Homo sapiens: one gene and its partner. The protein of the gene in region 1 purifies or fractionates together with the protein of each later gene. This does not show direct contact. Each region holds a gene or a part of one and is shown in the gene's direction. Other genes may lie near its edges.

Region 1 (2,617 bases):
CTCCTGGGGACACTCCCCCTTACCAGGCTTTTTGTCTCAGTGTGTTCAGGAATGGGGACCTGGTAAGTCCCCCATTTAGTCTGAAGCTGTCCCAGGCTGCCAGCCAGGACTGGGAAACTGTGTTGAAGCTCCTGACTGAGAAGGTCAAGTTGCAGAGTGGGGCTGTGTGCAAGTGAGTATGGGGACTGCGAGGGCCCAAAAGTCCCCAAAGAGAGCCTCGCCACTGGCTTCAGCTGTGGCTGAGGATGAAGAGGCAAAAGGAAAGCATGTTCCCCCACATGGGACTTCCCCCTATGCCACTGGGAGAGGGCCCTCTGCCCAGCCCTCAGAGGCAGGGTAGAGCCTGGGTGCCTAGAGGCCAGAGGGCACCTTGGAATAGCTGCACCCACCCCTTCAGTCTGCTGAATGTGAAGAAGCATCGAGTCTACCAGCCCTTATCCTCCTCACCTCTCTCTCCCAGACTCTGCACCCTAGAGGGGCTCCCACTGTCAGCAGGGAAGGAGCTGGTAACTGGCCATTACTATGTGGCTGTCGGAGAGGATGAGTTCAAGGACCTTCCCTATCTGGAGCTGCTGGTGCCCAGCCCCTCCCTGCCCAGGGGCTGCTGGTATGTATGTGGGAGGTGGAGCGGTAACAGGCCGGGCAGAGGAAGCCACCCTCTGGGTCTGTGTGCTTTGACTCTATGCCCTCTGCCCACTACAAGCCTTTCCTTTTGTCATTGTAGGCAACCTCCAGGCTCGAAGTCTAGGCCCCACAGGCAGGGGGTAGGTGACGCAGGGGACAATGAGGGGTGGGAAGAAGGGGAGTGACTGGCTGACAACTCTTCTGGCACAGGCTCTGACCTTATTTCACTGCATCCTCTCTTTTTTCTTTTTCTTTGAGACAGAGTCTTGCTCTGTAGTCCAGGCTGGAGTGCAGTGGCAGGATCTTGGCTCACTGCAACCTCCGCCTCCCAGGTCCCGGTTCAAGCAATTCTCCTGCCTCAGCCTCCTGAGTAGCTGGGATTATGGGCACGCTCCACCATATCCAGCTAATTTTGTATATTTTTAGTAGAGATGGGGTTTCACCATGTTGGCCAGGCTGGTCTTGAACTCCTGACCTTGTGATCTGCCCGCCTCAGCCTCCCAAAGTGCTGGGATTACAGGCGTGAGCCACCGTGCCCGGCCTCCTTTTTTCTTTTAAATATAGAGATGAGTCTCACGATATTGCGAAGGCTGGTCTTGAACTCCTGGGCTCAAGCAATCCTCCCACCTTGGCCTCCCAAAGTGCTGTGATTACACTATGCCCAGCCTGCATCCTCTTAATAATTTTTTTTTTTTTTTTTGAGACGGAGTTTCACTCTTGTTGCTCAGGCTGGAGTGCAATAGCACAATCTCAGCTCACTGCAACCTCCACCTTCTGGGTTCAAGTGATTCTCCTGCCTCAGCCTCCCGAGTAGCTGGGATTACAGGTATGTGCCACCACACCCGGCTAATTTTTTTTTTTTTTTTTTTTTTTGAGATGGAGTCTCGCTCTGTTGCCCAGGCTGGAATGCAGTGGCGCAATCTTGGCTCACTGCCAGCTCCGCCTCCCGGGTTCATGCCATTCTCCTGCCTCAGCCTCCCGAGCAGCTGGGACTACAGGCACCCACCACCATGCCCGGTTAATTTTTTTTGTATTTTTAGTAGAGACGGGGTTTCACCGTGTTAGCCAGGATGGTCTCGATCTCCTGACCTCGTGATCAGCCCACCTCAGCCTCCCAAAGTGCTGGGATTACAGGCGTGAGCCACCGCGCTCAGCCACACCCGGCTAATTTTTTTAATTTTTAGTAGAGACAGGGTTTCTCCATGTTGGTCAGGCTGGTCTCAAACTCCCTCAGGTGATCTGCCCACCTCAGCCTCCCAAAGTGCTGGGATTACAGTCGTGAGCCACCTCGCCTGGCCACTCTTAATAATCTTGTGAAAGAAAGATTATCCCCATTTTCCAGAGGTGGAAACTGAAGCTGAAAAGTGAAGTGGGCCTTGGGCACGATGGCTCACACGTGTAATCCCAGCACTTTGGGAGGCTGAGGAGAGTGAATTACCTGAGGTCAGGAGTTCAAGACCAGCCTGGCCAACATGGTAAAACCCCATCTCTACTAAAAGTACAAAAAAATTAGCTGGGCATGGTGGTGGGTGCTTGTAGTCCCAGCTACTTGGGAGGCTGAGGCAGGAGAATCACTTGAACCTGGGAGGCGGAGGTTGTGGTGAGCTGAGATCACACCACTGCACTCCAGCCTGGGTGAGAGAGTAAGACTCAAGTCTCAAAAAAAAAAAAAAAAAAAAAAAAAGTGAAGTGATTTGTTCAGGGTGACAGAGTTATTGAGTGGCAGGGGCCAGACCAGAATTCTCATCTGATTTGCAGGACTTAATACCTTCTTGCTAGGTTGGACGCTGGGAGAGAGAATTGGTATATTTGGCACAGCAGGGTCCAAGGGAACTTATATTATCCAGCTCTAAGCCCTCCCAAGAAATGAGCCAGTGAGCATGGGGCATGGTGGTGGGGGTGGGGAAGCACAGTCTGGTTTCACTGGGCATCGAGGAGTGCCAGGCATCTACTGCTCTGTCCCTGGATAAGTCAGGCTGGTGGGAAGAGGCAG
Region 2 (3,815 bases), on another chromosome or scaffold:
CCTGGGCTCTAGCTTGAGTGGTGGTGCTGATTTGGTATAGTTGTCCTCATGCCAGCCTCCCCTGCCTGCAGTGACATCATCAACAGCCCCAAGCTGGTGGGTGAGCTGCAGGGTATGGGGCTCGGGAGCCTCCTGCCCCCCAGGCAGATCCGACTGCTGGAGGCCACATTCCTGTCCAGTGAGGCGGTGAGTCTCCACCTGGGCCAGGGAGGGGCAGGGAGGCAGCAGAGGAGAGGCTCGGAGACAGACAGGACATGGGCAGGGAGCTTGACGGGTCTTCCAGGTGAGCGAGGTGAGGGATAGTGCCCCAGTGACCTGCCCCTCCTCCTCCAGGCCAATGTGAGGGAGTTGATGGACCGAGCTCTGGAGCTAGAGGCACGGCGCTGGGCTGAGGATGTGCCTCCCCAGAGGCTGGACGGCCACTGCCACAGCGAGCTGGCCATCGACATCATCCAGGTACTGCAATCTGCCCCAGGGCACACGTACCGCCCGTGCACGTGCATGGGGAGCCCCACGCACATTCCGTCCTGTGTGCATACCCATGCCCACCTCGGGGCACCCCCTCTGTTCCCGCCTGTTTCCTCCCCGTCCCCTGCCCCCTTGTCCAGGCGAGCCCCTGCTCAGCTCACCCACCACCACCCTGCAGATCACCTCCCAGGCCCAGGCCAAGGCCGAGAGCATCACGCTGGACTTGGGCTCACAGATAAAGCGGGTGCTGCTGGTGGAGCTGCCTGCGTTCCTGAGGAGGTGGGTGTGTGCCCAGGATGGGGTCCCTGTAGCCACCGCTCTCAGAGCCACGGCCCCTCCCTAGTGCCTCAGGTGGGGAGCTGAGCTGGATCCCCGCCCTCTACCCCTGTCCCTGTCATTCTGAGCCAGGAGTTGTTTCCCACTCAGCCAGGGCACTGAGAGCCTCAGGTGGTCTGACCTCCACCAGGATTCAACGTGGGAGCCTCTTGCGCCCACCCCATCAGCAAAGCTCTCAGCAGAGCAGCCTCTAGCTTCAAAGAGGATACCCCAGGAGGGACTGAGACCCCGCCACCCCTTCATACAACACTCCTAGTCTCCACCACCTGAATTCTCTCTGCTCTCTCCCTCTCGACCTCTGAGGGCTTCTCCAGCCAACCACACGCTCACTCCTACCTGGTCTCCCAACTCTAGAGAGGGCCTGGGAGCAGCAGAGATGGGCTGGTACCCTCTTCAGGAGCCCAAGCCTTAGCTTGTGAAGCCAGTTCCATGATGCCCAGGGGCTAGCGGCCCCTCCCTTGGCTATGGGCAGCCAAACAGAAAAGTGAACCCCAGGAGCTGGCAGGGAGGGCAGGGAGGCTGCTGCTGTGGTCCCAGTGTTTGGGCTGGTCCTGAATGTGCCCCTTCTGGTTTCGCCAGCTACCAGCGCGCCTTTAATGAATTTCTGGAGAGAGGCAAGCAGCTGACGAATTACAGGGCCAATGTTATTGCCAACATCAACAACTGCCTGTCCTTCCGGTGAGAGTGTTGGGAGGGGCTTGCGGGAGTGGGAGTCACTCAGCGGGCAGGAGAGGGGAGCTGGAAGGTGGAGGGAGGAGGAGCTGCTTAGGCCAAGAAGTGGAATTCAAACCAGCAACATGTGTGAGGACTCCACGGCCTGCAGCAGCAGCAGCAAACATTTCCCAAGTGCTGGCTGGGGCAAGCACACAGGCAGATGTTTCACCCATTATCTTATCCTTAAAGCAACCCTGTGAAGTAGGTATAGTGATCTGTCTATTAGGCAGATGGGCAAACCACTGGAGGAGGCTCACTTGCCCCCAGTTACAAGGGGATGTAGTGGAGGAGTGTCCTGAGGGCATGGAGAACATGGATGGGAGGACTTGATCCCATAGAGAATGGGGAGCCATTGAGGGTTCTAGAGTGAAGAGAGGGGGCTGTCTGGCTCCCTGGGTATGGGGCTATAGGCTGAGCAGGGCTGGGGTGACCTCTCTGCCTCCACCTTCCAGGATGTCCATGGAGCAGAATTGGCAGGTACCCCAGGACACCCTGAGCCTCCTGCTGGGCCCCCTGGGTGAGCTCAAGAGCCACGGCTTTGACACCCTGCTCCAGAACCTGCATGAGGACCTGAAGGTAGCGGGAGCCTCTTGCCCTCAGGAGCCCAGTGTTGGGGGGTTCCCAGGGAGGGACTGGGAGGTGCCCCCAGGGAGGAGTGGCAGAAGCAAAGATGTGGGGAAGACACGCTCCAGGCCTGTGGACGGCACCGTGGGCCAGCTCTGGTGCAGCGGTGATGCCCGGTTGGGGACCCTAGCAGGCTCTGAACTCCGCCGATCATGTCCTGGGGTTTCACCTGAGAGGGGCCGCCTGGGGCTGGGAGGGGCCGCCTGGGGCTGGGAGGGGCCGCCTGGGGCTGGGAGGGGCCGCCTGGGGCTGGGAGGGCCTGGAAAAGTTTCACTGCCCCTCCCCGATTCAGACACAGCCCAGTCCCAAGCCTGCAGACACCTTTCCTTCAATCCCCTCAGCCCCTCCTATCCACCCCCATCCCCGCGCCTGACTCCCAGCAACTGAGGCTCAGGGTCATCGGCAGCTGGGGTTATATCTGTTATGGGCCAAGAAATCCACAGAAAATGCTGTGAAAACAAGTAGTTCCTTTAGCAGGGTGTAAAGTGGGGGGTCTCTCAAAAGGAAGGGGAGAGGTTCTCTTCCCGGTGTCAGGGACTAGCGGCCATGGGTGGCCTGAGTGTGGTGGAAGCCCGAGCGGTGACCCCACATCCCCTGGTACTGATCTCCCTGGCCCAGCCAAGCACAAGGTCTTGTTTATGAAGGAATTTATTTATTTAAGTGGCAGTGGACTTGGCCTCCGGGCCGGCAGACAGGCTCTCCTGGCTCCTGAGCCGCACTGGGTGACCTTGGATAAGGGTGCACAGAGCCGGCTCCCACTTCCTGTCTGTGAGCAGGGACCTGAGGTTGGCCCGGGTTCCCTGGGAGTCCTTGAGTGCCCCCCGCCCCTCCACCAGGCACATGTGTCGGTGTGTGTCTGTGTCTGCGTGTCTGCGTGTCTGCGGCTGGCAGCCCTTCCTCTCCAGGGCGTGACTAGACATCCTGCCTCTCCTGTCTCAGCCACTGTTCAAGAGGTTCACGCACACCCGCTGGGCGGCCCCTGTGGAGACCCTGGAAAACATCATCGCCACTGTAGACACGAGGCTGCCTGAGTTCTCAGAGCTGCAGGGCTGTTTCCGGGAGGTGAGGAGGCTCTGGGCTGGTGGCTGGGTCTTGGGGAGTTGGGGGCAGCCCGGACACGCACACTAGCACGTCTGTGTACACTCACGCACATGTGCTCACACGCGCACATGTGAACACACGTGAATGCACGAGCATGTGAACACGTGCACATGTGAACACACGTGAAGGCACGAACATGTGAACGCACGAGCATGTGAACACACACATGTGAATGCACGAGCATGTGAACACATGCACACATATGAACACACGTGAAGGCACGAGCATGTAAACACACACATGTGAACACGTGAACGCATGCACATGTGAACACACACGCATGTGAACGCATGAGCATGTGAACGCACACATGTGGACGCACGAGCACGTGTGCAGTCTTTTGCTCTGGCATCTGCCTCTCTCTGGAGGCCTGGCTACAAGGCTTCAAGGGAGGTGGCGAGCTCCCCATCAGCAGACAGCTCACACGCCCCTGGCTGCTTGCCCTCCCAGGAGCTCATGGAGGCCTTGCACCTGCACCTGGTGAAGGAGTACATCATCCAACTCAGCAAGGGGCGCCTGGTCCTCAAGACGGCCGAGCAGCAGCAGCAGCTGGCTGGGTACATCCTGGCCAA

Evidence for each region.
Region 2: the proteins of DCDC2B (region 1) and TNFAIP2 fractionate together in Homo sapiens (co-fractionation; one large-scale study listed by BioGRID). This does not show direct contact.

Annotation. Positions count from the first base shown.
Region 1 is NC_000001.11:32,212,030-32,214,646, forward strand, and holds part of DCDC2B (doublecortin domain-containing protein 2B), read left to right. Parts: intron 1-40; coding exon 41-172; intron 173-460; coding exon 461-607; intron 608-724; coding exon 725-764; intron 765-2,447; exon of another isoform or gene 2,448-2,617.
Region 2 is NC_000014.9:103,129,669-103,133,483, forward strand, and holds part of TNFAIP2 (tumor necrosis factor alpha-induced protein 2), read left to right. Parts: intron 1-71; coding exon 72-186; intron 187-333; coding exon 334-456; intron 457-646; coding exon 647-747; intron 748-1,383; coding exon 1,384-1,482; intron 1,483-1,970; coding exon 1,971-2,094; intron 2,095-3,081; coding exon 3,082-3,204; intron 3,205-3,693; coding exon 3,694-3,815. UniProt on the Homo sapiens protein: May play a role as a mediator of inflammation and angiogenesis.